Homo sapiens: one gene and its partner. The protein of the gene in region 1 purifies or fractionates together with the protein of each later gene. This does not show direct contact. Each region holds a gene or a part of one and is shown on either strand. Other genes may lie near its edges.

Region 1 (3,828 bases):
CTTATTATTTAGGTAACACGTGTCCTCTGTTGTTTTTTCTTCTTCTGTGTGTGTGAAAGCCAGCCTCTGATGTGGGAAAGGCTTGAGAGAGATCTCTTTGTCATCAAGCCTTTGCCAGCTCCTATATGATATATGTGGCAGAGTTAGGCTCATTTGAAAACTTAACAAATGTACCAGAAAGAAAACCACCACAACCATATCCCATTTTGATAGCAGTTAAACAGGAAGTCATTAAATAAGACCTGTTTGTTGAAAAATATGTTTTTCTTTTATTAATACATAATATTATACAGATGTATTTGGTACATGTATTTATTTTTTACATGCATAGAATGTGTAATGATCAAGTCCGGGTATTTGGGGTATCCATCACCGTGAGTATTTTGAAAATGTAATTTTAACATCTGCCCTCTAACCAGCCGTGTGCTCTGGATCAAACCATCCAGCCTCTCTTAGAGCCTCAATTTTGGTTTTTCTCTAAAATGGGAATAATAAAACCTATCTCATAGAATTGTTGTGAAGATCAAATGAAATTTTATGTAAAAGTGCTTTTTAAATTGTAAACTGCTATATATATATATATATATACAAAAAATAGAAGATGTAAAATAAATCTATTTACTTTTCGAATGCTCTTTATAGTCCTATAAAAGGACTCCAGTAAATTGCTTCTCCTTTTTTTTCAAGTTTTCTGTGCAGTCCTGACTCATGTGTAAAGAAACCAGGACATTACATTTTGGAAGGTGATTTTGAAAAACCTTTTTTGATCAGCTTTAGAACTACAAAACAAAATTTTAAAGTTTTTCTTCTAACAAGCATTGTATTATATTTTAAATGTAAATTTTGTGCTTATACAGGAAGATATCAAGTCTCTTACTGCCCATATAGTTGAAAACTTTTATAAAGCACTTGAATCGATTGAATATGTTCAGACATTCAAAGGATTGAAGACTAAATATGAGCAAGAAAAAGACAGACAAAATCAGAAACTGAACAGGTATTGTTTAAGTATACTGCTTTTATAGCCTACAAAACTGTGTCCAAAATTGTTTGTAGTTCAGATTTTCCATGTGAAATTTACTGAGGAATTTTCTTTCCATCACTGGATAGCATAGAGTTGAATAGGAGGGTAAGGCGTCCCCCCTACCCCATATCATTTATATGTTGAATTACTACTCCATGTTGTAACTTACGAAGAATATTTAGTTTAATTTACAACATCCTAAAATATTTTGGAGTGTTCTCTGGCTACATCTTCTATCATTACAGAGATTATTTTGATATAAATTATAGTCAGTTAAAATTACTTCAGTTCATCTTGGTTATACATATTTTTCCTTCAGTTCAATCTGATGATGAACTTTAAATCATTACTCAATATTTGTGATATATTTCTTACAGTGTACCATCTATATTGCGTAGTAACAGATTTCGCAGAGATGCAAAAGCCTTGGAAGAGGATGAAGAAATGTGGTTTAATGAAGATGAAGAAGAGGAAGGAAAAGCAGTTGTGGCACCAGTGGAAAAACCTAAGCCAGAAGATGATTTTCCAGATAATTATGAAAAGTTTATGGAGACTAAAAAAGGTATTAAAATTCGGAATTTTTGCACAGTGTACCCTCTTATTTAGTGCAGAAATTATTTTGTTGCTTTGTGAAGGTTTGTTTATAGTTTACAAAGCAAGAAAGACAAAAATTTTATACCAAACTGTGTTCTTTTAAAATTATGTACTTTTTCCAAATCTGTCTGGGAATTCTTTTCATGTTTAAAATGTTTCTCTTCAAACTTGCTATTTTGTAATGCTGTTAATTTGCTAGTTAGAAATTGAATTATCTACTTATACTTTTCTTTCTGTGAATAGTCTTGGCTTTATTTCTATACTGAAATTCTCAGTAATAACAGAGACCATATAGCTTCATAGAAACCTTCTAGAGTACTTTGCCTGTGTCTTTTACAGCTGATAAACTGAGCTCAAACAAGTAACTTTGCTCTTTGAAATTTTAAAATTACAAAAGTTACATAAAGATATACTAACAAGAGAAGTGAAAAAGTAAAACTTCCCCTGGCTTTCAGATGTGCTTAACTTGTTTTATAAAATGAAGATCTTGCTAGTAATATATCTTTCAAAAGAACTAACCATTTTACTTCTGTGGCCTGAGGAATTACCATTTTTTGGAATACTGCCCTGAGTATATCATTTAAATATTTAATTAAAATTTATACCTTGCTGGGCATGGCGGCTCACGTCTGTAATCCCAGCACTTTGGGAGACTGAGGCAGGTGGATCATTTGAGCCCAGGAGTTCCAAACCACCCTGGGTAACATGGTAAAACCCTGTCTCTACAAAAAAACACAAAAATTAAATGGGCACAGTGGCACTTACCTGGAGTCCCAGCTACTAGGAAGGCTGAGGCTGGAGGATCACTTGAGCCCAGGAGGTCGAAGCTGCAGTGAGCCATGAGCTGCCGCTGCACTCCAGCTTAATAACAGAGAAAGACCTTATCTCAAAAACAAAAGAAAAAATTTATGTCTTAGAAGATAAAAGCCTTTCTTGGATTTATTATGTAAGTTTGTGATTTTGAATGTGACATTTTCTAAAGACAATTCTCAGAAAATTAATTTCATTTATTACATTTTCTTTGAAACTATTGTTCGTACTCATTTTCAACTCATTAGTTTGATAAGTTTTATTTGCCTCAGCGTGGCGGAGCAAAAAGCTTATTAAAATATCCTAAGAAATCGGTACCTTTGCTAGACAAATTCTTCTGCCTTTACTCATTACAGGTACTGCCCTGACTATTGTCAAAAGAGGCAGTACAGCCATATTTGAAGTTCTGTATCCAGTGTTGAGTGAGATGCTGTTAAGAATCATATATAAAAATAATAACCAGATGTTAAAAGGGATTGGACACCTATGTCATAACACAAACAGAAAAAGGAACCTGGAATATTTAGGACTTACGGACTTGATCATTGTCTTTAGGCATTTGGAATATTGACTTGTGAGAGAAATTACTAGGTTTTTACCATGAGTAAAGAAGTGTAGAGTCAGTGAGTGGAAGCTACAGGGAGACAATAAAAGGAAGAGTCAGACAGCTAATGAGATTTTAGATGTATGTGCTAGATACCACAATGTAGAGTTCTAGCATAGAATGGCTAATTTTGTTATGATCCGTAAGGTCCTTTCTAATACTGAGATTTCTAAGATTCTAGCTAATAAAGACTTACCACTTGTATTAGTTCGTTTTATACTGTTAAAAAGAACTACCTAAGACTGGGTAGTTTATGAAGAAAAGAGGTTTGATTAACTCACAGTTCTGTAGGCTTAACAGGAAACATGGCTGAAAGGCTTCGAGAACCTTACAGTCATGGTCGAAGGCGAAAGGAAAGCAAGCATATCTTAACCATGGTGGAGCGGGAGACAGAGAGTGTGAAGGAGGAGGTGCCATGCACTTTTGTTTGTTTGTTTGCTTTTTGAGATGGAGTCTCCTTCTCATTGCCCAGGCTGGAGTGCAGTGGCGTGATCTCGGCTCACTGCAACCTCTGCCTCCTGGGCTCAAGCAATTCTCCTGCCTCAGCCTCTCAAGTAGTTGGGATTACAGGCATGTACCACCACACCCAGCTAATTTTTATATTTTTAATAGAGATGGGGTTTCACCATGTTGGCCAGGCTGGTCTTGAACTCCTGGTCTCAGATGATTCACCCACTTTGGCCTCCCAAAGTGCTGGGATTACAGGCATGAGCCACCAAGCCCGGCCGAGGTGCCACACACTTTGAAACAACCAGATCTCGTGAGAACTCACTATCACAAAAATAGCAAGGGGGTT
Region 2 (3,828 bases), on another chromosome or scaffold:
CATATATATACATATACAAAAATACTATATATACACACATATATGTATATATATATATAGTATTCTACTACTCTTAGGAATTGCAAGCATTAAAATAAATTTTTAAGCCATTAATGATTTTAATGTCAAATTTATAATATTTAATTCTTAATATTGGAAGAAGAGAGAAATCTGTATAATTATATAAATACTTCCCACAAGCAAAACCTACTTAGGATATTGTTTAAATATTTTAGAAGCCAGTGTTTGTGATTAAGAAATAGTAACAGCTATGAGTTCTTTGTGTCAGGTACTTGAATATTTTACATGAAATCATTTATTTAATTCTCATACCTATAAGGAGGATACAGTTTCTTCCCATTGTACACATAAAGAGATTGAACCCTGTTTTTCTAGCATGGAGCCATGATTGAAACCCAGGCAGTCTGATTCCATGTCCCACTATATACTGGTTTTAGGAACTGGCCCATAAATTGTAAAGCTATTTGAAAATGCAGATTATTACGGTATTTGTTAAAGTCATATTAAATTTTTTTTCTGTTTTCGTTTTGAATCTACATCTTTACTTTCTAATGTTATGCTTTTTGGAAATTTATTTCATTTTTTGACCTAATAACTTTAAAGAACCCTTTGAAAACAACTTAAAAATTATGCTTTTGTATCAAAATTATACTTTAAATTCAGTACTTAGTTTTCTTTCCAGATTCGTGTCTACCTAAGTTTAGCATTGGTGATACTAATTAGTGTTGGTATTGTATACTTCTAAAACAAACAACCCTAGCCAACAACAACGACAGAATTTCTTTTTCTTTCATGTTTCTGGAAAAATAAAATCAGCTTATATAGTTGGTGTTTAAAAACAGGTGTATGTCATTGGTTATAAAGTGGAGATTTATTTTTCCCTAGACCCAGTTAAAGTTCATTTCTCTTTTTTTAAATTATAATTCTATTTCCACATGCTTTCTTTAGCCTTCTAGAAATTTAGTATTTCTTATCTCATTAGTTGTATCCATGGGATGGACATTGTTAAAATTTGGTTTAATATGGTAAACTTTAGGTTCTCTTTAGTATGTAAGCAGTATGTAGAGATAATATTTAAGTGATAATTCATTTGTTCAGTTTTCTGCTAAGGAGATATATTTGTTAGAAAATTTTTCTTAATACTTAACATTTGCATTCTCAAGAATGATGAAATTAAAGCTCATTTGCCTTTAGATTATAATCCATACCTGATTTAGATTATTACAGATAATATTGGATAGTGTAAAGATGAGATCTCATAATAATTACTCTATACCATTTATTTTGTTTATTTTGTTATTAAGGGTCCAAAAGGTGAAGCGGTTGGATCCATTACTCAACCCTTACCTAGCAGTTATTTGATCATCCGAGCTACTTCAGAGTCAGATGGTAAGTATAGTTTTTGATGGATTGGATTTTGGTCTTCATTTTTAAGAGTTTTTTTAATGCCACTTTGTATTATTCTGGGGAAATATATTTTTAGTATGGCATTTGCAGCAGAAGCATGGTAATCATAAATTGTTTTGAATGCTAAATATATGAGTAACTTAATAGACAAAAATCTGATAGAAAGGAAGCATTGTGTGATTTACTGAAGAGTTAGCAGTTCAGAGTTTTCTTCTTCATCCTCCATGGACATATTAACACCTTTTTATTTGTTAGTGGTCTTTATGGTACTCTTAAAGATATATTTAATACTTTTTATATTTTACTACTAAATGTTACCATTTATGAGACATATACATTGTTTTGGTTTTGTTTTTTTTTATGTAAGAGATTCGAGTACAACCTTTTTTATTCCTCCTTTAACACTTAATTCATGAAGCAAATATGGAGAGAGAAAAACTTAAATGATATCAAGGTAACTTTAAAATCTTAATAATTAATAATGGATTTTGTCCTCACTTTCATGCTTTCATGTTTCATAGTTTAGACAAGGTTGGTATAGGGAATCTTCTAACCTTCCAAAGTTTACTTTTATCTGATTTTTTTTGTTTTGTTTTGTTTTTGTTTTTGAGATGGAGTCTCGCTCTGTTGCCAGCCTGGAGTGCAGTGGCACGATCTCGGCTCACTGCAACCTCTGACTCCCTGGTATAAGTGATTCTCCTGCCTCAGCCTCCCGGGTAGCTGGGATTACAGGCACATGCCACCACGCCCAGCTAATTTTTGTATTTTTAGTAGAGACGGTTTCACCATGTTGGCCAGGATGGTCTCACACTCTTGCCCTCATGATTCGCTTGCCTCGGCCTCCCAAAGTGCTGGGGTTACAGGCGTGAGCCATCGCACCTGGCCTCAGATTTTTTTTTTTTTTTTTTTTTTTTTTGAAACGGAGTCTCACTCTGTCGCCCAGGCTGGAGTGCAGTGATGCGATCTCGGCTCACTGCAAGCTCCGTCTCCCGGGTTCACGCCATTCTCCTGCCTCAGTCTCCCGAGTGGCTGGGACTACAGGCGCCTGCCACCACACCCGGCTAATTTTTGTGTATTTTCAGTAGAGACAGGGTTTCACTGTGTTAGCCAGGATGGTCTCGATCTCCTGACCTCGTGATCCGCCTGCCTCGGCCTCCCAAAGTGCTGGGATTACGGGCGTGAGCCACCGCGCCTGGCCGATGATTTTTTTAAATTAAAATATAGGTATGAGCTTTCAATATGAAGATGCTTTACTTGGCTGATATTCCCAGCAAATCTTGAAGTGATATATATGAAAATTAAGAGCCCTAAACAAATATAAATGAAAAGTTTTCTGCTAATTCACTTTTAAATTTTTACTTAAAAAATAAAACTATTAATGTTTCTCTTAACTAATATGGCAGTTAATGGTAGCATTATGCAGGCATTTTCCTGACTTAAAAAGTTTCATACATACAAGTAGAATGGTTGTTAATCTTGAGGATAGACCTCCTATTAACAAAAACAGTTACTTCAGATAGTTTGTTTGTAGTAGAATCATAAATCCTCAAGTGTATTTTATGTACCTTGCTTGATACCTTCAAATTATACTGCATGTTAATGTTCTAAGATTTGAAAAATAAAGTATGTTTATTTTAGATTGGGTATAGTTTCTAATGCATGCTGTATACTATTCATTTATCAGTGGTGTGCTTAGTATGTGAAAAGCATTTGAAAAACGGAAAGATTTCATTAAATTCTAGCAAGATGTTATGTTCAGATTAACTTTTCCAGTGCATGTTTCTCAAAGAAATAGTGGTAACAGGGTAAGTTAAGATGCATGCTAGTTTCATAGTTTTAAAAATTATAGTGCTTATGAATCTGTGTTCTTTTAGGAAGGTGCTGGATGGATGCTTTGGAGTTGGCTTTGAAATGTTCTAGTCTTCTTAAACGTACAATGATCAGAGAAGGAAAGGAACATGACCTGAGCGTTTCATCAGATAGCACACATGTGACTTTCTATGGCTTACTACGTGCTAACAATCTCCACAGTGGTGATAACTTCCAGTAAGTAGATACTGCCGCTGAGTTGGTAATGTTTCAGAGACCATACTGTTCACAAAATTAGTTGGCAGGCCTAGAATTTTAGTAGTGTATCTAGGACTGAAATTTGCATATCTTCCCATTATATGGCCTAGGAACCGGCTTAAAATTTGTTTAGCTGCTATAATCAGGTGTAGAAATGTATTTCCTTGATTCCAGCCAACGTGATTTACTTTATCTTTCCCAAATATAGCCATGCTAATTATTCACCTTGTCTGTGCATGATGTCCCTTCTATTAAGAATGATTTCTGCCTACTCCTCCTTACGCTTTTCTCCTGTCTATATATTCTTCAAGATCAGTCTCAAATATTACATCA

The links.
Region 2: the proteins of PPP4R3B (region 1) and OSBPL8 fractionate together in Homo sapiens (co-fractionation; one large-scale study listed by BioGRID). This does not show direct contact.

Annotation. Positions count from the first base shown.
Region 1 is NC_000002.12:55,562,071-55,565,898, reverse strand, and holds part of PPP4R3B (serine/threonine-protein phosphatase 4 regulatory subunit 3B), read left to right. Parts: intron 1-48; exon of another isoform or gene 49-196; intron 197-687; coding exon of another isoform or gene 688-705; exon of another isoform or gene 706-743; intron 744-857; coding exon 858-997; intron 998-1,401; coding exon 1,402-1,586; intron 1,587-3,828. UniProt on the Homo sapiens protein: Regulatory subunit of serine/threonine-protein phosphatase 4 (PP4). May regulate the activity of PPP4C at centrosomal microtubule organizing centers.
Region 2 is NC_000012.12:76,392,227-76,396,054, reverse strand, and holds part of OSBPL8 (oxysterol-binding protein-related protein 8), read left to right. Parts: intron 1-1,325; coding exon 1,326-1,410; intron 1,411-3,302; coding exon 3,303-3,474; intron 3,475-3,828. UniProt on the Homo sapiens protein: Lipid transporter involved in lipid countertransport between the endoplasmic reticulum and the plasma membrane: specifically exchanges phosphatidylserine with phosphatidylinositol 4-phosphate (PI4P), delivering phosphatidylserine to the plasma membrane in exchange for PI4P, which is degraded by the SAC1/SACM1L phosphatase in the endoplasmic reticulum.